Linked DNA regions of Homo sapiens. The protein of the gene in region 7 interacts with the protein of the main gene of each other region in a biochemical or structural test. Each region holds a gene or a part of one and is shown on either strand. Other genes may lie near its edges. The genes, in order: PAK4, JMJD1C, USP22, MAP2K1, TRIM55, SIRT1 and PPARG.

Evidence for each region.
Region 1: the proteins of PPARG (region 7) and PAK4 form a complex in vitro, tested with the Homo sapiens proteins (one study listed by BioGRID).
Region 2: the proteins of PPARG (region 7) and JMJD1C interact in a test that uses a peptide from one of them, tested with the Homo sapiens proteins (one study listed by BioGRID).
Region 3: the proteins of PPARG (region 7) and USP22 form a complex in vitro, tested with the Homo sapiens proteins (one study listed by BioGRID).
Region 4: the proteins of PPARG (region 7) and MAP2K1 form a complex in vitro, tested with the Homo sapiens proteins (one study listed by BioGRID).
Region 5: of the proteins of PPARG (region 7) and TRIM55, one has a biochemical effect on the other in vitro, tested with the Homo sapiens proteins (one study listed by BioGRID).
Region 6: of the proteins of PPARG (region 7) and SIRT1, one has a biochemical effect on the other in vitro, tested with the Homo sapiens proteins (one study listed by BioGRID).

What each region holds. Positions count from the first base shown.
Region 1 is NC_000019.10:39,167,286-39,170,785, reverse strand, and holds part of PAK4 (serine/threonine-protein kinase PAK 4), read right to left. Parts: intron 3,480-3,500; exon of another isoform or gene 3,400-3,479; intron 2,923-3,399; exon of another isoform or gene 2,701-2,922; intron 2,557-2,700; 5' UTR 2,484-2,556; exon of another isoform or gene 2,474-2,483; intron 2,162-2,473; exon of another isoform or gene 1,946-2,161; intron 1,255-1,945; 5' UTR 1,233-1,254; coding exon 1,029-1,232; intron 1-1,028. UniProt on the Homo sapiens protein: Serine/threonine-protein kinase that plays a role in a variety of different signaling pathways including cytoskeleton regulation, cell adhesion turnover, cell migration, growth, proliferation or cell survival.
Region 2 is NC_000010.11:63,172,478-63,175,977, reverse strand, and holds part of JMJD1C (probable JmjC domain-containing histone demethylation protein 2C), read left to right. Parts: intron 1-3,500. UniProt on the Homo sapiens protein: Probable histone demethylase that specifically demethylates 'Lys-9' of histone H3, thereby playing a central role in histone code. Demethylation of Lys residue generates formaldehyde and succinate.
Region 3 is NC_000017.11:21,005,012-21,008,511, reverse strand, and holds part of USP22 (ubiquitin carboxyl-terminal hydrolase 22), read left to right. Parts: intron 1-515; coding exon 516-642; intron 643-1,524; coding exon 1,525-1,616; intron 1,617-3,500. UniProt on the Homo sapiens protein: Deubiquitinase that plays a role in several cellular processes including transcriptional regulation, cell cycle progression or innate immunity.
Region 4 is NC_000015.10:66,487,912-66,492,044, forward strand, and holds the end of MAP2K1 (dual specificity mitogen-activated protein kinase kinase 1), read left to right. Parts: intron 1-1,303; coding exon 1,304-1,365; intron 1,366-1,806; coding exon 1,807-1,852; exon of another isoform or gene 1,853-2,590; coding exon 2,591-2,704; 3' UTR 2,705-3,633; downstream 3,634-4,133. UniProt on the Homo sapiens protein: Dual specificity protein kinase which acts as an essential component of the MAP kinase signal transduction pathway.
Region 5 is NC_000008.11:66,133,629-66,137,128, forward strand, and holds part of TRIM55 (tripartite motif-containing protein 55), read left to right. Parts: intron 1-1,361; coding exon 1,362-1,527; intron 1,528-3,466; coding exon 3,467-3,500. UniProt on the Homo sapiens protein: E3 ubiquitin ligase that plays an important role in regulating cardiac development and contractility, muscle growth, metabolism, and fiber-type differentiation.
Region 6 is NC_000010.11:67,891,156-67,894,655, forward strand, and holds part of SIRT1 (NAD-dependent protein deacetylase sirtuin-1), read left to right. Parts: intron 1-246; coding exon 247-399; intron 400-3,500. UniProt on the Homo sapiens protein: NAD-dependent protein deacetylase that links transcriptional regulation directly to intracellular energetics and participates in the coordination of several separated cellular functions such as cell cycle, response to DNA damage, metabolism, apoptosis and autophagy.
Region 7 is NC_000003.12:12,376,070-12,379,569, reverse strand, and holds part of PPARG (peroxisome proliferator-activated receptor gamma), read right to left. Parts: intron 1-3,500. UniProt on the Homo sapiens protein: Nuclear receptor that binds peroxisome proliferators such as hypolipidemic drugs and fatty acids.

The DNA.
Region 1 (3,500 bases), on a different chromosome or scaffold from region 7:
TGCAAGGACCACACGGACCCCTCAGTGGGCTACCACATTGAGGCTGCACTTGTGTCTATGGCCAACTTGTGGGCCTTGGGGCTTCTCCCCGCCAGGCTGGGCTGGGCACCGGGAGGGTGAGTCCCCAGGCACACCCATCTCCACCCGCTGGATGCAAACCTGGCCGAGTTCCCCTTGGCCTGCGGCCCCTCCTGGTCCCCACTGACCATGGGAGAGAGTCCAGGCTCCAAGGCTGGCTTCAGAGGCCCAGCACGGGCTCAGGCCAGGCCAGCCTCATGCCAGGCCACACCCAGACACCGGCTCCACAACTCTTATGATTTCACATGGAGGCAGCAGAGGGGTTAAGAGCACGGGCCTTGGAAACAGACATTGGTTCAAATCCCAACCTTGCCATTTTGCTCTAGATGGCAGGAAGAAAAAAAAAAACCCAAAACCAAAAAGCCCCCAGCGTTTCACAGGAGTGATTTTCTCCACTAAAGCCCGGCTTCCCCAGCATCTGCTGGAATTTCTCCTCCTCCTCCTCAGCCCTGGGCTCTGCCTCGGTGTCCCCTCCTCCCAGAAGCTTGCCTGGACCCCTGGTCTGTGTCAGGTGCCTCCTCCGGGCTCCCCCACCCAAGCCCTGACCACTTGGGGCTGTCACCCTCTGGGAATGGGTCTGTCTTCCACTGCCAGGAGCTCTGGAAAGGCTCAAGGTTGGGTGAGACAGGAGTGTGGTCCGGGGTACAGCAGCATGGCCCCCGGGACATGAGTCTGCGGGAGACAGCAGAGCTTGGAGGCTGGTGTGGGGGCTGTCAGATGGGCCGTGGGGGAGGCTCAGGTTGGGGTGGCATGGGTTCTTAGGACTTGGAGCCAGTGGGTGGAGGGTGAAAGGCCAGCACTGGACCCAGGATAGGGGTGGAAGGCTGGGGTTTGTCTCCATTTCCATGTCAGTGAGGAGGTGTCGGTCACAGGGTCGAGTGTGGGGTTGAGGGCCAGGGCCACTCGGGGGTTGGGGTGGGCTGGGGGAGGTGGTGGTGGGTGCCACATACCTTGGGGGCCCCGGGCTGGATGGAGGTGATGCAGGCGGGGTCGACGAGGGGCTTGGGCCGGCGAGCCGACTCCTCGATCAGGCTCTGCCACTGGCGGGGCAGCCCCGTGAACTTCTGCTCGTGCTGGTCGAAGCCCGTGTGCACGCGGTGCTCGAAGTTGGACGGCGCGGAGATCTCCACCCGCTTCTTCCTCTTCCCAAACATGGTGCCGGGGACTCGGTGCGGCCTGCGGGAGGGAATCACGGTGGGTGAGTGAGAGCCTGCCCATGTCTCTTCCTCCTCTGCCCCTGCTCTGTCCCTCCCATCCTCATCTTACACCGGGACCAACAGGAGGCAGTAGCCTCCTTCTGGGTCTCCCTGCCCACCCCCTGCGCCCATCTGTGTGGCACACACAGCCAGAGGGTACCCGTGAGCACCCGAGCGGTCACGTCCCTCTGCTCAGAACTTTCCTGCCGCTCTGTCTCCTGCGGGCCCACAAGGCCCCATCACCTCTCTGTTCTCACCCCCCCTGGAGACCTCAGAGCCTTTGCACGGGCTGGCCCCTCTGCCAGGAGCTCACTTCCCAGTGTCTGCACAGGGCTCCCCGTCCCCTCCTTCAGTTCTCAGAGCAGCAGTGACTCCTTTCCTGACCACCCCAAGGCAAAGAGCCCCGTGTCCCGCCGTCCCCCCGCTCTACATCACAGTCACAGCCCGGAACTCATGGAAATCCTGTTTGTTGTTCCTTCTTAGGTTCATGAGTGCAGCATCCACACCGCACCGCTAGAGTGTCAGTGCCACATTCTGGCTGGGTCTCGTCTGCCCCGCTTCCCCACATCCCCTGCTATGCCTGGTACATGGTGTGTACTGGATGGACGGTCACTGATGGCCTGGCCACTGCCACTGGTCCAGCCATGAGTCTGGGCTGGGGACGCCCACACCTTTGGATATTGACTCAGCACAGGGTTACTGATCCCCTGGGTTAAGAGGGCACCCCAGGCAGCCTTGTCGCGACACTCCCCTATCTTTAGGATCTGTGGTCTTCAATCGGGCCCTTGACACAGTACCAAGCACAGAGCAAATGGTCGACCAAAGCCACTTTAAAAAACAAAGGGGCTGAGGAAGAGACATTCTGATGGCGGCATCCCATAGAGAGCCTGGAGAAAGATGGGAGGGGGAGCCAAGAGGCCAGAGTTCGACTCTCCATCACATGCTGCCGTGACCTTGGGCAGGTGACAACCTCTCTGTGCTGTGGATGAACCCCCACAGGGCTGCTGCGAGGGGTAATGGGTGACTGGGAGCAAAGAGCTTGGTGCAGGGCTGGGCAAATATGGGGGGCCTATCGGTGGGGACCACTGTGATGGCTGGGGCGGCTCCCACAGTGCCTGTGGGAGGAGGGGCCCAGGTCCTGCTCCCCCCTAAGGCCCCACCCCAGCTGCCCCGGGCCTGGGCCCTGGAGTCGCACACACCTGCACACACCTGGTCTGATGCTGGTGGGACAGAAGTGCCCTCAGGCAGGTGACCACTCCTCTAGGGGCTTCGGGTTACTCATCTGTAAAATGAGAGGAATGCATCCATTCACTCACTCATTCATTCATTCATTTGGGAATAACTCAGCAATGGGCCTCCTCTGTGGCCACTGCAGTGACCCAGACAGCCTTTGACCTCATGGGAAATTCGTGTGGGGCAGACAGACCTGTCCCCATGCAGCAGCTGCCCAGGGTGGTCAGGGCTGGGGGACGGGAGCACGGGACCCAGTCTGGAGGGACGCGGGGTGGGCAGCAGGAAGGCTTCCAGGAAGAGGGGAAGAGTTGAGACCAGGGGACGAGGGGACATGCAGGTGGAGTTTCTGTTCTGTCTTGTCCCAGCTGGCTCCCCCGCGCCTGGCACAGCGCGTGGCACAGCAAGTCCTGTAGCCCTAGTGAGAGGACAGAGGACGCGCAGATGCACGTAGCCCCTCCACACCTACTTCTCCTCCCGGCTCAGGCTGCCTTCCTGGGAGCAGCTGGGAAAGGTGAGGCCCTGCCCAGAGCTAGGACCATCCATGGGAGCCAGCCAGGGGAACCGGTTTGGCAGCGGGAGCCCCGTGGGAGGGGGGTGGGGGCCCGGCAGCCAACCTGTCTCAGCTGGTCCCAAGAGGCCAGCGGGTGGTCAGAGCCGGGCCTGGCCAAGGCTCCCAGGGTTGGCCCAGTTTCCCTGCTTGCCCTGGGGCCCAGGATGGAGGGCGGACGGGGGGCCTCCTTTGTCTCTGCCCAGCCCCTTCTCTGAGCCCAATGCTGGCGCCCTGAGTGCTGCCCACCCCTCCCTCGTGGCCTTCCAGCCCAGCCCACCCCTGGTGGCCCTGACCTACTCTCTCATGGCTTTCTAGGCCCAGCTCCCAGGGTCATCCACATACCCCAACAGTCCCCATTTGCCCACTCTGCCTGCTGTCATTCCAGATCTGCGTCCCATGTCCTCCGGCCTCTCCGTCCTCCCAGATGTCCCTCCACCCCCTTT
Region 2 (3,500 bases), on a different chromosome or scaffold from region 7:
AGTATACAGACTTTTTATCAGGCTTTAAGCATACCTCCTACCTTTCTTCAGCATGCTAGCATATCAGGGGCCTGTCTAAAGAAAGATGGTATGTAATTTATATAACTGTTGATCCACAAAACATAAAAACTAAAATAAATACCTAGTTTAAAATACCTAATTTTTCCAGCACCGGGAAAAATGGCATAGAATAGATGCAGTGGTTATGGAGGGTGGGATTAAAAGTACACAGTGGATTCCTATAGGTGGAATGGGGCTACTACAGCCCAGGTTAACCCTTAAAATTAACAAGGTGTACCAGGGAAACCAGAAAAAACTCAAAAGCTGCTTTGCCTCAACAGTTGGTTCTCCACCTTTTCCACTGCTAAGTAATTGAGATGTAGCTGATGTATATTAGTTTACCAAGGAAACTTTCTCACATTTTATATAAGTATAGTCATTGACTGTTTTAGCATTTATGGCACTCTTCCATACAAATACTACTTAGGTGATAATAATTGCTTAGCTTTTAGGATGTGTCAGATTCAGGGTCAGATTTATCATTATTAGATCTCAAATGGCATTTATGATACAGTAGTAAAATACAAATGTCATAATAATAAATACCTTTTTCTCTATGATAATTTCCTGGAAAAAATGTATTTACATTAAGTGGTTATATTTTCCCATGGACTTATGATTATTTCAGAGATGTCATATTATTTATGTTTCATGTTTAATCTGGGATTCACCCTATACACCATTTCTTTGACTTCTAGACTCTTAGCAGAAAATAGCTAATCTGTATTCAAATGTAAATGCTCTCAAAAGAAGAGCCTATTTAAGAGACTAGTATTATAAATCTTTTTGTACATAGGAATAATCCTTTGATAATACAAAGTAGATTCCCTTGAAGATCTTTATTCACATATTGAATTTATCCAATGTCAGTTTTTATAAAGTTAACCTAGGTAGTGTAGTCATTTTTGTAAATTGAGATATAATTTGCATATAGTGAAATTTACCTTATTTAATGTATAATTCTGTGAGTTTCAACAAATGCATAGTTAGGTAACAACATAATCAAAATGTAGAACAATTCCATCACTCCGAAAAAATTCCCTCTTGCAGTTTTTTTTTTTGTTTTTTGTTTTTTGTTTTTTTGAGACAGAGTCTTGCTCTTGTTGCCCAGGCTAGAGCTCAGTGGCGCGATCTTGGCTCACTGCAACCTCTGCCTTCCGGGTTCAAGCGATTCTCCTGCCTCAGCCTCCCGAGTAGCTGCGGATTACAGGCATGCACCACCACGCCTGTCTAATTTTGTATTTTTAGTAGAGATGGGGTTTTTCCACGTTGGTCAGGCTGGTCTCGAACTCCTGACTTCAGGTAATCTGTCTGCCTTGGCCTCCCAAAGTGCTGGGATTACAGGCATGAGCCACCATGCTCGGCATCCTCTTGCACTTTTATAGTCAGCCTCTTCCCACCCAAAGTTCCTGCAACTAATCTGCTTTTTTGTCCCTATAGTTCCTCTTTTATGAGTATGCTGTAAATTTGGACTCACACAGTATGTACCCTTTAAGTCTGGCTTTTCTTAATGTATTTGAGATTCATTCCTATTGTTGTATTTATCAGTTGATTCTTTTTTTATTGCTGGGTAGTTGTATGAATATTTTTTTCATTTTTTAAATCCGTACATTCACCAGCTGAAGTACATTTTGGTTTTTTCCACTTTGGGGCAATAATAGATAAAGCTATCATAAACATTCATATACATGGTTTTATGTGAACAAAGATTTTTATTTCTGTTAAGTAAATACTGAATGGTGGGATTGCCTGGTGATACTATAATGTATGATTAAATTTAAGAAACTGCCAGACTATTCTCTAAATTGGTTGTTCCATTTTCATTTCCCAGTGCAGGGTTATGTGAGTTTCATTTCCTCTGCTTCCTCACTAGTGCTTGTTACTGTCAGTTTTGTTTTTAGACCATTCTAGTAAGTGTACAGTGGTGTCTCATGGTGGTTTTACTTTGTACTTTCTTAATGACTAAACATTGGGCATCTTTTTATATCTTCATTTGCCATCTGTATATCTACTTTGGTTAAATATGTGTTCAAATATTCTGTCTATTTAGCTGCTTTTTTTCTTACTGAGTTTTGAGTGTTTTTTGCCAATTTCTGATAATGTCTTTTATCTGATAATGTGTTTTACAAATACATTTTCCTTTCCTGTAGCTTCTCTTTTCAAAGAGCATTTTTTTTTCATTTTTCCATTTTTTAAAAGACAGTATCTTGCTCTGTTGCCCAGGTTAGAGTGCAGTGGCACAGTCATAGCTCACTGTAATCTCAAACTCCTGGGTTCAAGTGATCCCCCCACCACACCCTCCTGAGTAGCTAGTACTGTAGATGGACACCACCATGCCCAGCTGATTTTTTAATTTTTTGTGGAGATGGGGTCTTGCTGTGTTGCTCAGGCTGGTCTCGAACTCCTAAGCTCAGGCAATCTTCCTGCCTTGGCCTCCCAAAGTGTTGGGATTGTAGGCATGAGCCAACCCACCTGGCTGGTTTTTTCCATTTTGATGAGGTCCAGTTGATCAGTTTCTCTTTTATGGATGGTATTTTCATAGTATCTACAAAATTGTTGCCTAGCCCAAGATCACTCAGATTTTCTCCTCATTTTCTTCTAGAACCATTATAGTTTGAGGTCCTACATTTGGGTATGCAATGTAGTTCATCTTTGTATGTAGTGCATAGTATGGAGCGAGGTTCAATTTTTTGCATATGGGCATTTGGCTGTTCCAGTACTATTTGTTGAAAATACTACTTTTTAATGTTTTTCTTTTGAAAATGTAATACATAAACAGAAAAATTCAAAAGTATAAAAAGTTCACGGTGAAAATTCAGTATCTCACATTTTTCCCCCAGTTCCTTTTTTCCAGATGCAATCATTGTTACCCCAAAGAGATTCCATGCTTACACTTGTGTCCCTGCTGCTACTTTTTTGGGAACAGTGGTCTTTTAGTAGGCTCAAAGTGACCTTGTTAAAAAGTTAGGTTGGTTTACATATCCACACTTCCCCCTCTGTCTCACTGCCTTCATCTCGTATGGCTCTCCTAGTTCCTCTCTAGCCATCCTGCCCTCTTTGCTTCTTTCACACACACCAAGTATGTTTCCCCCCTCCCCCAGGGTTTTTGTGCTTCTTAATCTTTTTTGCTTGGAATCGTTTTTCTGTCAGGTATCTGTAAGACTTGCTTCTTTACACTTTTTTAGGCTTCATTCAAATTTCACCTTCTTGGTGAGGTCTAGTTTAAAGCTGTAAATTGTGTCCCCCAACTTTCTGTCGTCTTTCCTGCTTTATTTTCCTCCATTTCAGTTGTCACCTTAAAATATGCTTTATAATTTACTCACTTTGCTTGTCTTTTAACCCCCACTGGAACGTAAGCATGATGAAGTAAGAGATTTATCTTTTCCATTGCTCTCTTCCCATGCCTAGAATAATGCACTTAATGTTTGTATTATTAATAA
Region 3 (3,500 bases), on a different chromosome or scaffold from region 7:
ATTGGCTTTTCTTGCACATCCTAATTCTCTGGGGACGCATCCAGGGTACAGCTTGGGATCAGTAGTTCCTTCCTTTTTTGCTGCTGTCTCATACTCCATGGTACAGTGTTCCACAGTTTCTTTAATTATTCAGCCATGGGAAGAAACGGGGTGTTTCCAGTTTTGTGACTCTCGTGAGTAACATTCTGGTGCACATTTGTGGACAGTTTGTGTGTGAACATTAGTTTTCATTTCTCTGGCTCAAATTCAACTGCTGGGTCATATGGTACTTAGAAAATTATTACCATTTCCCCAGGCCTTTCCTGGAAAAAAAATATTTAAGATAAATATTCTGTAGAGACAGGCAGCAAAGGTGGACAACATTTTCTCTTTTTTTCATTGTTTCATTTTTAGTTGTAAGTGTATGTTTTTGGTAGGGAAATCAACCCAATGAAAGAGATAAAATACCTCTTTCCTCTCATTTTTCTGTCTCTTGCATCTCCCTTACCGCTCCTGTCTTTTTTGAACGCCTGTAGATTCACCAGACCAGAGCACTTGGGCAGCAGCGCCAAGATCAAGTGCAGCGGTTGCCATAGCTACCAGGAGTCCACAAAGCAGCTCACTATGAAGAAACTGCCCATCGTAGCCTGTTTTCATCTCAAAGTAAGTTTTCCAGAAAGCCAACTCTAATGGCAGACTTAGTTTTTAGTCCACAGTACGGTCCTCAGCCTTTTGGTTTGCTGTGCAGTTACATTTTTTATAATTGCAGCAAGCAGGAAGAACACCGAGGAAGGGAGGGTGTGAGGGAATTGTCCTCCCATCTGTGAATTGTCCTTTTGTCTGTGCTGCGGTAAACAAAATCAGTGGCTTCGCAGTGAAAGTAGAATGTGAGTTTTCTTGGGAGCAGAGTGGTTGTGAAGTTTTTATTACTTCTACCATTCCTCCAGCTACCCCCTCCTCAGGTTTTCTGTTTTATTTTAAGACAAAGGCCCTCAGCATGCAGATCTGGTCCAGGAGTTGGCAAGCTCTTTCTCTAAAGGCCCAGATAACTGAAGATGTCGAGCTCCACAGGCTGCGTGCGATCATACGATTCTCTGTTACATGTTCTTTGTTTCATTTCACCACCCTTTAAACATGGAAAACGCCCATTCCTAGCTTGCTGGCTGGAATGGGTGACTCCTGATCTAGGCAAAGGACTGTCTTCTGTCTGGTGAAAGGAACAATTTGTTCATTTTTGCTGCCATGGGCCACGGATCTTTGTTTTGTTTTCTGTGCTTTGCTGGGTTTGCTGTAAGATTACTTTTTGTACCCTTGGTGTTACCACTGAACAGTCCCATCATTTGAAGACTTGAACCCTGTAAATGAGGACTTGGGTGGATTGCCACTGTGTTTTTGAATCTGTAATTCTAGATGTAGCTACAAGGCAGTTCAATAAAATACAAAAGAGATAACACAGACACCTGTCATCAGAAGAAGGCCCTGAAGCTTCCAGTGACATTTCTGATCTTCTTTCCTCTTCCCTCTGTCCCCTTCCTATTTCTGCAGCGATTTGAACACTCAGCCAAGCTGCGGCGGAAGATCACCACGTATGTGTCCTTCCCCCTGGAGCTGGACATGACCCCTTTCATGGCCTCCAGGTATGTGGGGTTGTAGGCCCGTTCTGTGTCCTGAGGGGCTGTGATCCTATCAGGACAGGAATCCAGCTCGGAGCTCCTATTAAGATGACTGTTGGCCGGGTGCAGTGGCTCCCGCCTGTAATCCCAGCACTTCAGGAGGTCGAAGCGGGCAGATCATGAGGTCAACAGATTGAGACCATCATGGCCAACATGGTGAAACCCCGTCTCTACTAAAAATACAAAAATTAGCTGGGTGTGGTGGCAGGCACCTGTAGTCCCAGCTATTTGGGAGGCTGAGGCAGGAGAATCGCTTGAACCCAGGAGGTGGAGGTTGCAGTGAGCCAAGATCGCGCCACTGCACTCCAGCCTGGTGACAGAACGAGACTACGTCTAAAAAAAAAAAAAAAAATGACTGTCGATACTAATATAAACCCCACCTTCCCCAAATCTGTTTATCCTGATCTTAAGATACAGCACATGTTAATGAGTTGTTTTTCATCAGATACCCTGTTTTTGTTTTGAATTTCTCAACAATTATCAATCCACTTTCAAACCGGCAAAGTCCTCAAGGTGGGATCACAGCGAGAAGGCAACATTTTAGTTCGTGGAACAGATGTTGAAGTACAGGCAGACATAGTTGGTTTTGCAGTTGTAGATTGCATTTTCCTTTTCAAATCTGCCTATTCTGGGGTACTTGGAATTCAGCTGCTTACTAATGCATGAGACACATAGGAGTTTCCTGTGGTTCTGTGACAAATGACCAAAAACCTGGCGGCTTAAAATTAATTTCCTCACAGTTCTAGAGGTTGGAAATCTGAAATCAAGGTGTTGGCAGGGCTCCATGTCCTACAAGGGTCTTGGGGATTCCATTCCTCACCGCCTCCAGCTGCTGGTGGTTCCACGTGTTCCTTCTGTGGCTGTCACTCCCCTGGCTTCCGGGTCACATGGCCAGCTCCCCTGACTCTGTGTCCAGTTCCCTCTGCTTCTCTGTCATGACCGTGGTCATTGGCTTTAGGACCTAGGCAGATCATCCAGGAGGATCTCATCTCAACATCTTTACTTTGAGTCTCTGCAAAGACTGGTTTTACAAATGAGGTCCCAGTCTCAGGTTCTGAGGGTTGAGACGTGGATGTTGTTATTTGCAGGGTGTTATTTTTTGGTGGCCACAGTCCCAGCCCCAGCACCGTGGAAAGCATGTTGCTTTTTGGTAGTTAGCGGCCTCTTCCTGGTGTCCTCTCATGGCTGTCCCACCCCTGTGGCACACAGATGACCTCCTGAATAAAACAAGACCAGAGTCAGAGCTCCATATCATCAGTCTGACCACGATGGTCACGTACTGAGGGAGGTGACAGTACTGTTCTAAGGTCAGGGTCTCAAAGATCTTGGTGTTTCCTGCCAAACACAGCTGTAGGAAAATGCAGTAAATAATGTGCATGGCTTCCTGTTCCCAGCACTCCTCTCCCCCATCTCACCAGGGGAGGTGCTGGTCATGAAATAATGAGCAGCAATCTTTGTCCCTTTTGAGGAGGCACCTGCCTAGGTTGTAGAATGGATTCAGCGTACCCTTTCAAGCTAACCCTTTACATGTGGGAGGAAGAGCACCTTCACCATCTGCTTTGTCACAAACCAAACTCACATTCCTCCAGATCCAGCTCCCATTACCAGCCCTATTCAGGACCCACCTTGGAAGAACCAGGGGCCACGCCAGGTGGCCTCAGGACCCAGGTGTGCTCTGAGGCAGGGGCCTCCACAGCTTGAGCGTCAGTGTCCTCACGAAACATGGGGAGATTTCTGCCTGAAGCATAAAGTGCACCTCGGTGCAGCATCTGCATGGTCAAGCTTGGATAAGTGTTGGTTTCACGAGAGCCTTGTGTCTCTGGGCCTGATGATTTTAATGATGCTGAA
Region 4 (4,133 bases), on a different chromosome or scaffold from region 7:
CTTCCAAATTTTCACATTAATTTCCCATGCAATTCTCCCAAGCATTGCTGAGGTAGGCCAAATTGGTTCCTCTTCAAACAGGTGAGGAAATTGAGCCTCCGAGATGAAAAGTAGCCCAGGTCCTTCCCACCCAGTGCTCTTTCTTCCTTGCCACCTCCCACCTCCCATTCTTACCTCCTAGGAGGCTTGGCTGCATGGCAGTTGTTCTACTGCAGCCTCTGCTGGCACACAGCCCCTCTGCTGCCTAGCTCTTTCCTGTTCAGAAGGAATGGATGCTGCCTCTGGAGGCCAAGCTGCTGGTCTCCTCTCTTCCTTGAATGGTCCCTTGATTCCCTCAGCAGTGGGGACAGTCTGCAGAATGGGGCTTGCTCTGGGTCACTGTTCTAAGAGCTGAGTTCTAGTCCTCACCTAAGATCAGACTGACATGGCCCTCAAAGGAAGAGCACTAGGTTGGGCTTTGTGGTGGGGATCAGTGTCTCATTTTTAGTCCCAAATTAAAAACGAGATTTTGGGCTGTACATCAGAGCAGTGACATCATGGACATTATGTCTGTGGGTCAGCATGGGTACACACAGCTCCCAGCCCAGGTACATAAGTGGGCCCACATTTCCTGGACTGCATGGAACGCCATGAGCCCAGTGCTCCAGAGCCTTGTACTGTATAGTGCTGCATGATCACCATGGGAAAATCTGAAAACAGCCTCATTTCTGGAATGTACAGGTAACATTCTTCCAGATCCAGCCCTCTGTCAGTTAATGTTTTATTAACTTTTCACTGCTTCTCTAGGGCTCAGAAAAGGGATTTTTAAAAACCGGTTTGCTTCTGCAGGTGCTGTCAGACCTGGGCTATGCCTGGTGGTTTGCACGTGCCCCTAGCTGTTGCTGCCAGTAAATTGCTGGTTACGTTCCCATGCCGCACTCCAAGATTTACCATTGTAGAGTGTCAGAGCTTGAAAGGGTCCCTGAGATCATTAGGCCCAACCTCTTCATGTCATAGAAGAGTAAACTGAGGCTCATAGAGGAATAGTGATTAGTTCAAAATCACCCGACAAGTGAGTGGACTTGACTTGGTCCCAATTCTAAATGTGCTATTTGAGATCAGTGGTTCCAACATGGTTACCCAACAGGCAGCACTGGCCTTCTACCTGTGCCTTTCCTTGACTGGATGAGAGTAGTACTGCCTTTGGACTGCAGAGAAGACTTTAAAAAAAAGTAGCACTGGCTGGTGGGAGGGGTGGGATGGGGAGAGGAGATGGCTGGAGCAAGGAGCCAGGCATTTTTCTTATCTCAACATGTGTTTGCAGCCTCCTCCAAAACTGCCCAGTGGAGTGTTCAGTCTGGAATTTCAAGATTTTGTGAATAAATGGTAAGTTGGCTCCTTGTTCTCTGGAAGCGTATACTCTGGATTTGTCAGGCTCCCCACCCCATTTCTGGAAGCACCAGCATTGCTTCTGCAGGCAGAGTTTTGCCCTTTACCCTCCCGTCTGATGATTCTTGGCTGCTGCCATAAGCCCTTTTTTAGAGTGCCAAGACTTATGTGGCATGTCTAACTACATCATGGATGTAGTAGCTGCTCCTTTTGGTACTTGCTCTCCAGGGATTGGCACGTTGCTTTTTGACCTTAGTTTAACTCAGCAAGAATGTATTAACTTACTGTGGGCATGATACTGTGCTTAGAACAGGAGGATGAATCAAGCCCAGGCAATCCTCGGCCTCTAGTGTGCAGAGAAGACAGGCATGCAAACATGTTATTTGAGCTAGAACCAGTGCCAGGCAACAGCTCTTACCTTGTCTTTCTTCCTTTAAGCTTAATAAAAAACCCCGCAGAGAGAGCAGATTTGAAGCAACTCATGGTGAGTCTATTTATTCCGGATTCTTACAGTACCTGTTTATTCATTTGTTCTTCTCTGTCAGTCATCTGTGCAGTACTTCCAGAGCCCATTCATTCCCTGCCCACTGTGGTCCAGCTGAGCCTGGGGCTGCAGAATACCAAACACCAGTCTCCTTTGCTCTCCCATCAGTTTAAGGGAAAGCTGGGGTGACCCCCGCAGCCTGAGTAAGCATATGCCAGAGGAAATGCCTGAGGGGGCCATGGGAAAGAAAAGGCCAGCCCACCCCCTTCATGGGGATGCGGCCTTTCCCTAATACTGACTGCCTCATCTTACATTCAGCCTCCTTCCAGAGTCACTCTCCGCCTGCTGTCTCGTTTGGTGGCAGTGGAAATAGCTAAGTAATACTGTAAATATCTGGACAGCCATAGACGGTGTATATAGTATATAATATGCACTAAGTCCATCATTTTCTTTGTCCCTTCTAACAAGCCTGTGAGGCATTTAAGGCAGAGTTACTGTCTCCATACTGCACGAGTAGGCTCCAAGAGGTGACTTGCCCAAGGCCTCACAGCTGCTGTGACTGGTGGAGCAGGTCTTTGGGCCTGCAGCTGGCCCCACTGTTGCTCAGGGGCAGGTGCCAGGTGCTCTTTCCAAGTGCAGCACAAGCTCTAGACCTGAAACTCTTGGATTTTCCTTCCTGGTGGGTTTTGTTTTTTTGTTTCTTTTTAACACCACGTCCTCTCGTTTCCTTACATGCAGGTTCATGCTTTTATCAAGAGATCTGATGCTGAGGAAGTGGATTTTGCAGGTTGGCTCTGCTCCACCATCGGCCTTAACCAGCCCAGCACACCAACCCATGCTGCTGGCGTCTAAGTGTTTGGGAAGCAACAAAGAGCGAGTCCCCTGCCCGGTGGTTTGCCATGTCGCTTTTGGGCCTCCTTCCCATGCCTGTCTCTGTTCAGATGTGCATTTCACCTGTGACAAAGGATGAAGAACACAGCATGTGCCAAGATTCTACTCTTGTCATTTTTAATATTACTGTCTTTATTCTTATTACTATTATTGTTCCCCTAAGTGGATTGGCTTTGTGCTTGGGGCTATTTGTGTGTATGCTGATGATCAAAACCTGTGCCAGGCTGAATTACAGTGAAATTTTGGTGAATGTGGGTAGTCATTCTTACAATTGCACTGCTGTTCCTGCTCCATGACTGGCTGTCTGCCTGTATTTTCGGGATTCTTTGACATTTGGTGGTACTTTATTCTTGCTGGGCATACTTTCTCTCTAGGAGGGAGCCTTGTGAGATCCTTCACAGGCAGTGCATGTGAAGCATGCTTTGCTGCTATGAAAATGAGCATCAGAGAGTGTACATCATGTTATTTTATTATTATTATTTGCTTTTCATGTAGAACTCAGCAGTTGACATCCAAATCTAGCCAGAGCCCTTCACTGCCATGATAGCTGGGGCTTCACCAGTCTGTCTACTGTGGTGATCTGTAGACTTCTGGTTGTATTTCTATATTTATTTTCAGTATACTGTGTGGGATACTTAGTGGTATGTCTCTTTAAGTTTTGATTAATGTTTCTTAAATGGAATTATTTTGAATGTCACAAATTGATCAAGATATTAAAATGTCGGATTTATCTTTCCCCATATCCAAGTACCAATGCTGTTGTAAACAACGTGTATAGTGCCTAAAATTGTATGAAAATCCTTTTAACCATTTTAACCTAGATGTTTAACAAATCTAATCTCTTATTCTAATAAATATACTATGAAATAAAAAAAAAAGGATGAAAGCTACTTTTGCTTTTGTGGTAAGCTTTTCAGTTTCTTTAGTACACAAGAAATACTGGTTTAGCCAAGCAACACTGGTGAGGGGGAAAGGTGAAGATGAGGAGGAGGCTGGAAGGCAGAAACAGGACACCGAGTTCAGTGCTTTGGACTAATGGGGCTTCCTGTAATTTCAATCTCTGGACTCAGTCCAGCTCTTCTCACCCAACACCCTTATCTGTGACTCTTCCAACCACCTTCCTTGTGGGACCTGTGAATAGATCCTGTATATTCCTTTGATCTCTTTTATACAAGGGAAAAGCAGCTGATGGGGGACTGGGAGCAAATCTGAGAAAAATGACAAAACATTTCTTATCTCACAGAACATTTCTCATTTTCCATATACCAATAGTTGAGCTGAGGGCCTGCCTGCACTTTTAGGCTGTCATGCTCATAGGAGGGCCTTGCTGGTGGCCAGCTTGCCTACCTGGTGTGGGAGCTTTCTGCACAACATAGGACAGTCTGTCTCC
Region 5 (3,500 bases), on a different chromosome or scaffold from region 7:
CTGGAAGTCCGTGCAATTTTCTTACAAGACCCAGGGCTTCTCCCAATGTTTAGCCTAATCTCAAGTAATTGACGTCCACCTAGCAACTTATAAAGGAACATTAGCGTCTTACAGAGGCACATCAGCACGTTCTCTGCCTTTCTCTGAGTTCTGGGTCTGCAGCTACAAGATACCACACATCAAAAAAGATGGGTTTCAAACACTTGTATTCATGATTTACAGTAGGAAGTGCATTTTACATTGTGACCACTTACATATATGGACGGATATATATACACACACATATGTATATACACACATACACAAACACACACACACACACAAACACACATATACTTTTGTTTCAGTCACATATATACACACGTACACCTGAAACAAAAGTTTCGAACAGCAATACTTATTTTTACTACATGTAATTCACAGTATTTGCTATTCCATTCTATTTTTATTTTAACAATGCAGATCATAGCTCCCTAAATTGATTTCATGGCTCATAAAAACCTGTAGTTTTTAAAAATTGGATCTGTATAGCAACAAAACAAAATGTAGTCCCAAATCTAAGATGTTGCTAAATAACTATGTGTTTGGAAATTTGAAGAAAGCTTCTGGATTTGGATTTGAATTTTTTGAATACTTCTGAAAACTATTAGCAGCCTCAGTCATTAGATAGGATATATCAGAATTCCTGGGGTTTATATAAGGAGGTACACCCACACTTGCGTCTCATACACATTTGCATCCAACCAGTACTTGAATTAATAATCAGAAGATTTTGGTTCCATGTGAGCCACACCTATCCTCATTTCTTCAGGTGAAAAGGGTCTTTCCTGGGGCCAGAGGCTGGAGGGGGGCGATCTAGCTACTCCTAAAAGCTGGTGCAAACTCGACTTTTAGTTCATCAACAATTTCCTGTTCTTGGTCCATAATGGGAAAGTGTCCCTTGAGAAACTTGTGAGCATGTAGACACAGTGCTGGACCACGTTCCTGATGGCTCACCAGGGTTCGATATTCTACTTTCAGGAATTTCACTACCAGATTCTGAAACCTTAAATAACTTAAAATTGGCCATGTGGAAATACACCATGGAAATGGGCAAATGGTACAAATCAGGATCTCCACGTCTCTGTCCCTACCCCAAGCAGGTTGTTAGAGATTTGCCAGCACTCCCCTGCTACACCTGCAGGGAAGCTGAATTTGGTGGGCTCTGAGCATGTGAAAGGGCCCCTGGGGGTCTTCTGGAATAGAATTGCTGGGCATACAGGGAAGAGAAGGAATTTGCAAGGCAGAGCAACATCAGCTCTGCCTTGATGAGATTGCCCCAGTGAGAGCTGATGGACATTTATCTGCCTACCTCCTCCCAGGCCAGAAAAGAAATCCGACCAGCCCATGTGCGAGGAACATGAAGAGGAGCGCATCAACATCTACTGTCTGAACTGCGAAGTACCCACCTGCTCTCTGTGCAAGGTGTTTGGTGCACACAAAGACTGCCAGGTGGCTCCCCTCACTCATGTGTTCCAGAGACAGAAGGTAACAGAGCTGCTCCCTCCCTCCCGCAACCCCTCCCCATCCCCACACCTTAGGGCCTTCCTGGGGCCAGTGTGAGTGGCTCCCTGCGGTGGAGGAGGAAGCCCAAGCCACGCAGGGCCATGGGACACTGGAGGGCACACAAGGTCTGCAGGAAGACATGTGCACAGTTGTGCACGAGGCACACACCAAATTCCCTGGACGGTGGGGGACCAGGCGAGACAGGGCAGGGGTGCCCAGGTTCAGGAAGTGGTGCAGAACGGCACGATCCCTGTTTTTGTGCCCTTTGGAGGTTGCTGATGATGAGCAATGTTAGGGGACCCAGCAAAAGCTCAAACTGCTCCAGCTTATGTGAAGTTTAGACTACAGATAAGAAAAGGACAGCTTTTTACCCTAGTCACAGAATACTTTCCTTCATCCACCCATGAAAGATTTCTTTGGCCCTCCTCAATGCCTTTTATCCCGCACTCTTAGTGAGGGAGGGTTACACTGATGACATGCAGTTACAGAACAGCTTTAAAACACAGACTTGTGCTGGCCCTCCTGTCACCAGGGCCAGTTGCCTAAAAACCCCTCTGAGTGTGGTGTCTCCCCCTGACCCCAGGGCCTCAGCCATGGCCCCCTAATTCTGAGCAGACAGAAAGACAGTGTCTCCCTCTACACATTACCAACCTGCCAACCTGGTTTCATTCATGAGCAGGTCAGAATTTATCCATCTGGTACAGATAAAAGTGGAGTTGGGTACTCCAATAGGTGCAGCCACTCCAGGCACCGAGAACTTGAGCAGTTCCACTACTCAGTTTCTTTCATTTAGAATCATCAGTTCCACATTTGATCAGTGTTTTACTGTGAAGATCAGTGCTGAAATCAAATTTGGAAGCAAAACTCTTGGGCAACACCAATTACAGCTAGTGGCCACTAAGTCCTAAAGAAACAGATTTTGCAAATTATCCACAACATTTGTTTATTTTTGAATCCAGTTACAATTTATTCCCCCTTCTCTTCTGCCCACCTCCCCCAAAGCATAGCATAATAGAACTGGATGGTAGCTGTTTCACACTCCTTCCTTCAGAGCCTGGAGACTCATGTGAGATGGACAGAAGAACAGACTGGTGGGACCCTCACCCTTGCTCCTGTTTGGCCAAAGCAGCTTCACCTCCATATTAGCTTTCACTTGAAGAAGGTTCTGCAGCTTTAAAATATTTTATAATCACTGTTCTGGTCCAATCTTCTCCTTCTAAATGTGAGAAAATTAGGGTCAAAATTGAATATATGTTTTGCCCAACATCACAGAGAAGTTGGGGGTAGAGTTGGACCAAGCGCATGGGTCTCCCAAGTGCCCCTCCAGTGCTCCTGGTGGCTCCATCAGCCAGTCTTGGGAAGGGGGTAAATAGGAACAATAGAATCTCTTCCTAAGTCAAAAGAGCAAAGGAATTTAAAAGTTGACATTTCTCCCCTAGAACTAGTTCTTTGTTTCAGTGTGAAGTTTGTAATGACTTAGTCTAATGTGTGAGTGTTTGTGTCTGTATACACTATATTCTTATGCCCATAATAAGTATTTGTTGAATAAATGAGTATTTACTATACACATTTCCCAAGTAAAATTGACCCTTAGTTCCACTAGGCAAATAATTCCATTTGGGTCCCTGAAGTCACATATTGGTCTCCATGCTATTTATAAACAATACTTAGAATTCTTTAGCTTGAACATGTTGATCTTAATATTAAGACTGATGAAAACTGTGAAACCTTTCCCTGCACAAATGGATTCATACACAAAGGTTTGCTTGCAATATCAGAAGGTCCACAGGCCTCCCTGTTAGTCCTTAGGGGTTGCATGGATCCTAAATTAAGAACCTGTAAAGACAATATTATGACCAATTCACAGTCGGGGTGGCTAGGAAACCCCTAAGATATTGGGTTCATGTTTTCTCTTCATTAGTCTGAGCTCAGTGATGGCATCGCCATCCTCGTGG
Region 6 (3,500 bases), on a different chromosome or scaffold from region 7:
AAATTGGCCTGACTTAAAAATTCCTTATCTGTGTTAAAGATGGAATATGAGGTATGTTTAATTTTACTCAGTTATTTGGGAGTTTTATTTCTGAAATAAGGGTAGGGTTGTATTTTTATTTCTTAAAAGAAGTTTCAGACTAAAATTTTCTTTCTCAACTCTTACCTAATTATATGGTAAGAGAGCTAGCTAGTTCCTATAAAGGTAGAAGATTTAATTTTACAAATTATGCCATGCACATTTTAGGTGTCTGTTTCATGTGGAATACCTGACTTCAGGTCAAGGGATGGTATTTATGCTCGCCTTGCTGTAGACTTCCCAGATCTTCCAGATCCTCAAGCGATGTTTGATATTGAATATTTCAGAAAAGATCCAAGACCATTCTTCAAGTTTGCAAAGGTACTATGAACTCTTCTGGTTGTTTCTTTGGCCTTCTCTCATGAAAAAGTATTTTGTTCACATACAGCCACCTTAAGGTTATCGTTCATTGTTTAGTAAAGTGAATGCTGCTACTGTGGCGGAGTAAGATCACTCATTATGGCTAGAATTCCTTTATTCCTAGAGGAGGACTATTATCTACTTCATTTTAGGAGTGAGCTTATTTTCAAAGAGATAGTTCATATTTTTAAAATTTGCACTGCAGCGATGGTCGTTATTCTGCCTGGGCTTTTTTAAGAGGTTTGCACACCATATAAAAGTAACATAACTTGTGATTTTTAATATTTTATTAGAGATTGTAAAGGTTATAACATCACTTTGGTGTTTCGTAGTCAAGTTTTAACATAAGGATGTGCCTGAAAAATCATTTGTAATTAGAGAATGGGAAGATTCTTGGGTTGCATTTTTGTCAGCAAATTGCAGAGGATCATTATTCTGCTCTAGAGTTGCACCGTCCAGTTCAGAAGCCACTAGCCACATGTGGCTGTTGAGTACTTGAAATGTATTGATATGTGCAATAAGTGTAGAAGACATATTGGATTTTAGAGATCCAGTATGGAAAATACAAAGTATTTCATTAGTTTTATTCATCAAATATTAAACAAATATTGGTTTTTATATGGAAAAAATACTTAAAATTAATTTTGAATTCTTTTGAAATACTTTTGATATTGGGTTAAATAAAATGTATTTTGGGCTGTGCGTGTTGCCTCATGCCTGTAATTTCAGCACTTTGGGAGGCCAAGGTGGGAGGATCAGTTGAGCCCAGGAGTTTGAGACCAGCCTGAGCAACATAATGAGACTCCATCTCTACAAAATAAATAATAAAATTTGCTGAGCATGGTGGTGTGCACCTGTAGACCCATCCACTCAGTAGTCTGAGGTGGGAAGATCCCTTGAGCTCAGGAGCTCAAGACTGAGTGAACCATGATCTGCCATTGCACTCCACCCTGGGCAACAGAGCAAGAGTGTTTCCAAAATATATGTATGTTTTTTGAAGTTTACTTTTTTTTTTTTTCTTTTTTTGAGAAGTAGTCTTCCTTTGTCCCCCAGGCTGGAGTGCAATGGCATGATCTTGGCTCATAGCAACCTCTGCCTCCCAGGTTCAAGTGATTCTCCTGCCTCAGCATCCTGAGTAGCTGGGATTACAGGCGCCCGCTACCATGCCCAGCTAATTTCTGTATTTTTAGTAGAGACAGGGTTTCACCAGGTTGGCCAGGCTGGTGTTGAACTCCTGACTTCAGGTGATCCACCCTCCTCGGCCTCCCAAGGCTCTGGGATTATAGGCGTGAGCCACCGCGCCTGGCCAGTTTTCACCTTAATGTGGTTACTAAACAATTTAAAGTTATATGTATGTCTCACATTATGTACCTATTGTACAGCTCTGCTTTAGCATAGAAAGTTTAATAATGCATTACACCATTCTCAAGAGATTGAGTCATTAGAAAACTGTTTTCTTTCCTGTATTTCAGTCTTTTGGAAAGAAATTACAAAATTTGTTATTGTTAAACTTGGAGGTATATATATTTGAAAGAGTCATTTTATTTTATTTTACTTTAAGTGCCGGGATACATGTGCAGAATGCGCAGATTTGTTAACATAGGTATACATGTGCCATGGTGGTTTGCTGCATCTATCAACCTGTCATCTAGGTTGTAAGCCCCACATTCATTAGGTATTTGTCCTAATGCTTTTCCACCCCTTGCCCCCCACCTCCTGACAGGCCTCTGTGTGTGGTGTTCCCCACCCTGTGTCCATGTGTTCTTATTGTTCAACTCTCACTTATGAGTGAGGACATGTGGTGTTTGGTTTTCTGTTCTTGTGTTAGTTTGCTGAGGATGATGGCTTCCAGCGAAGGAGTCTTGTATTAGTGGCTTTTTCCCCACCTAATCGTTAGAAGTTGTGAATAGGGACTTCTTTAATGAATCCAGAAGTTAATGAACCTAGCTTTTTTTTTTTTTTTTTTGGAGACGGAGTCTGGCTCTGTTTCCCAGGCTGGAGTGTAGTGGTGTGATCTCTGCTCACCATACAACCTCCACTTCCCGAGTTCAAGAGATTCTCCTGCCTCAGCCTTCCGAGTTGTTGGGACTACAGGCGCGTGCTGCCATGCCTGGCTAATTTTTGTATTTTTGGTAGAGACGGGGATTCACTATGTTGGCCAGGTTGGTCTTGAACTCCTGACCTTGTGGTCCGCCCATCTCAGCCTCCCAAAGTGCTGGGATTACAGGTGCGAGGCACCGCGCCCCGCGCCCTGCCGATGAACCTAAATTTTAACTAAACAGTGGCCTTATCTACTTTCAGACCATGTGGTATATTTACATGACTACAGGAGAAGCTTTGCTAATTCAGAATAAATTATGTTACTTAAATTGGCGACTGTCTTTAAAAAAAAAGTGATTTTTTGGATGCAGTAGCTCGTGCCTATAATCCCAGTGCTTTGGGAAGCTGAGATAGGAAGATCTCTTGAACTCCGGAGTTTGAGACCAGCCTGCGCAACACAGTGAGACCCTAATCACTACACCCCTCCACCCCATGTAACTTTTGTTTTATCCAGGTTGTGGTATATTAAATGGGCATTAGTGTAAAGTGGGAAAATTATATTAATTCTTGAATATGATTACTAAACTGAATTTGAAAAGTTTTCAGGCTATCAAGAGAATTTTTAACTTAAAACTTATATAATTTGAACTTTTTACTTCATATATCCGTAATGATGATGGTCATCTATATCTAGCTTTTAGAGCAGACAACTGGTTCATACCTGGATTAAATAAATAATGTAAAGTTATTTTTTGTTAATTATGGATTAGTGAAGATTTACTGTTTTAACCTACTCCTGCTAGTGGCACTACTGCATGGTTTTGAAGACCAGTGAAGTATGACTTAAAGGTTTCTTGAATTGGAGCTAGGACACTGGCATTTATAAAATCTCCACGTAGCGCAGACATTGACACTATCAGAAGACCAGCAAGTAACTAGAAGTTACTTTGATCTTAAATCAACTACAAAAAACTTGACTCACTAGTTATGGAGAATACATTTTTTATTGTTAAACTGAAAAA
Region 7 (3,500 bases):
CATAACCACCTTCTTAGTGCTGTCTAGGCTGTTTTATGATAGAAAGGAAGTCACCCTTTACCCAGGTATCATAATAGAGGATCCTGAAACAGTGCAGATACATACAGTGTATCCATATAAATGCCTTTTTGCCAACAGGCCTGCTCTCATTAACTTCTACATTAGGTCATCAATTGAGTCTGTTAATGACTGCTGTTATTTATTTAAAATTTTGTCCAGCTTTATTGAGTATAATAGACAAAAATTTTTAAACTTAAGGTATACAGGCCAGGCACAGTGGCTCACACCTGTAATCCCAGCACTTTGGGAGGCGGAGGCAGGAGGATCACCTGAGGTCAGGAGTTCGAGACCAGCCTGGCCAACATGGTGAAACCTCATCTCTACTAAAAATACAAAAATTGGCCGGGTGTGGTAGCACGCCTGTAATCCCAGCTACTTGGGAGACTGAGACAGGAGAATCACTTGAACCTGGGAGGCAGAGGTAGCAGTAAGGTGAGATCACACCACTGCACTCCAGCCTGGGTGACAGAGCAAGACTCCACCTCAAAAAAAACCTAAACCAAAACAAAACAAAAAAACCCAAAAAACCAAAAAACAAACAAAACACTTAAGGTATTCAATGTGATGTTTTAATATACGTATTTACTATGAAATGATTATCATAATCAAGGTAATGAACATATTCATCACTTCACAGTTACCTTTTTGAGTATGAATATGTGTAGTGAGAACACTTAACATCTACTGTCTTAGCAAATTTCAAATATACCATACAGTATCACTAACTATAGTCACCATGCTGAAGGTGACCTATACTTAGCAGATGATCACCTTAGAAGGTGACCAGAGCTTATCCTGCATAACTGAAACTCTGGCTGATATCTCCCCATTGCTCTCACCCTCCAGCTCCTGGCAACCACCATTTTACTCACTGCTTTTATGAGTTCGACTTTTTTAGATTCCACGTGGATCATGTGGTATTTGTCTTTCTGTGTCAAATACCACCCAGTTTAATTCTCTTAGCATAACGTCCTCTAGGTTCATCTCTGTTGTCGCAAATGACAGGATTTCCTTCTCTTTTTAAGGCTGAATAATATTCTATTGGGTGTGTACATATACATCTGTATGTGTATATATGTATGTGTGTATATATATACAGATATATACTGTGTTTTCAAAAATCCATTCATCCATTGACACTTAGGTTGATTTCATATCTTGGCTATTGCGAATAATGCTGCAGTGAACATGGGAGAGCAGATAGCTCTTCAACATACTGATTCCATTTCCCTTGGATATATACCCAGAAGTAGGATTGCTAGATCATATGCTAGTTCTATTTTTAATTTTTTGAGGCAGTCCATTCTGTTTTCCATAATGACTATACCAATTTACATTCCTGCCAACAGTGTACAAGGGTTCCCTCTTATCCACATCCTTGCCAACACTTCTTATCTTCTGTGTTTTTGATAACAGCCATTCTAATGGGTGTGAGATGATATCTCACCGTGGTTTTGATTTGCATTTCCCTGATGATTAGTGATGGTGAGTACCTTTTCATATATCTGTTGGCCACTTGTATGTCTTCTTTCTAGAAATGGATATTCCTTTATCATTTTTTAACTGGGTTATTTGTTTTCTTGCAATTGAGTTTGTTGAGTTTCTTACATATTTTGGAATATTAATTCCATATCAGATGTACGATTTGCAATCCATAACTTCATATCAGATGTACAGATTCCCCTATTCTGTAGGCTGGCTTTTCACTTTATTGATTATTTCCTTTGTGGTGAAGAAGTTTCTAGTTTGATGCAATCTGTTAATGATTGTTTTTAAAGTGTGCACAGGGTTCCAGGACAATTTTACTCTCTTGAAATTAGAAGCCCAAAATATTTTTCTCTTTAGGATGAAATTTTTGCTATTCTACTTGTATTTATAATGCTTTTGTGTAATAGAAAAGTTGGCAAATTAAATTTAGGTAAATGAACTTCTTCTTTAATTGCATCCTAAAATAATTTTGTTCTTAAAATAATACAAAAATAAAAAAATTTTAAAGGGAAAAATCACTCAATTATTACTTCTGTACTATGAAAAATTACTCAATAATCTTTTCTGTGGATACACCTTTTCTTAAAGCGGAGAAAGTTTTCCCCACATTGAGAATAGAAAGGTTAGAGAGATATGTGGAAACATTTGATCACACCCGAGAGTGTCAAAATCAGACTCTAGCCCAGCATTAATTTTAAACCATCCCCAAAACAAAAACAAAACAAAACAGAGATAGAAACAAGAAAACACATAAAAGACAAAGGAAAAATGCTTACATGGATTCTAAGGCCACAGAATAGCAAGTTTCATGAATCATTTGCCCAATATCATGTATGCCACATGCATTTTTCTAAACATGATTTATTGTCACAGTAAGTGCAACAAAACTCTTTTGGTTCACTTCATGTGAACTTGTGAGCCACCGAGGGTGCAGACTGGAAAACTTTCTGCAATAGGTACCTGGACTCTGTTTACCTGACACCAGTTCATTATTCAAAGTGGTGCCAAAAAAGCAGTCATAGGTATTTTAAATGTTAACTCTGTGGTCAAAAACACCAGTGGAGAGCTGTGTAAATTTAGGACTGCTCACACGGGAGACAGAGATGAGCTGCTCATAAACTCCAGGATTCATCAAATCATAGGCGTATCTTTCTTGTTTGCAGTCATATCCCCACTGGCTAACAAAGGGCTTGTCTCATAGTAGGTGCTCGTTAAATATTTATTTATTAAATACTAAATACATTGATGACTTAATGAGATAGCTGTGAAGTTTCAGCAGAAGGGGCAGGGAAGGAGGGAAGCAAATTGGTATTGATCAAGCACTTCCCATGTGCCCGGTACATCCTACCTTTTCTTCTGCATAATCTGAAATATTATTCCCACTTTATAGATAAGCAAGCTAGGACCAAAGAAGTAAAGTGAATTGTTCAAGGTCCTCTAGCTAGGAAGTAGAAGATGCAAACTCAAGACTGACCCTGAAACTCTCTTCTGTATATACATACTCTCTTGATTCTCTCATTGATGAAACAGGCTTATGGAGGAGGGGCCACTCTCCTCTGTGTATCTGTGCATGGGCCTCTTGCTTTTCCTTTTTCTTTTCTTTTATTTATTTATCATTTTTTTGGAGCAATTTTATTTTAATGCTCTCACTTTAACACCACTTGCTTTTTCTTACCAAGCAGATTGCCAAGAAATTCACTCCAAAGGCAAACTTTTGCATGAGTTGAAGATTGAAGATTTCGGCTGTCATCTTCATAAGAAAAAATGCCCTGAGGCCGGGTGCGGTGGCTCACACCTGTAATTCCAGCACTTTGGGAGGCCAAAGAGGGTGGATCACCTGAGGTCAGGAGTTCGAGACCAGCCTGATCAACATGGAGAAACCCCATCTCTGCTAAAAATACAAAATTAGCTGGTCATGGTGGTGCATGCCTGTGATCCCAGCTACTCGGGAA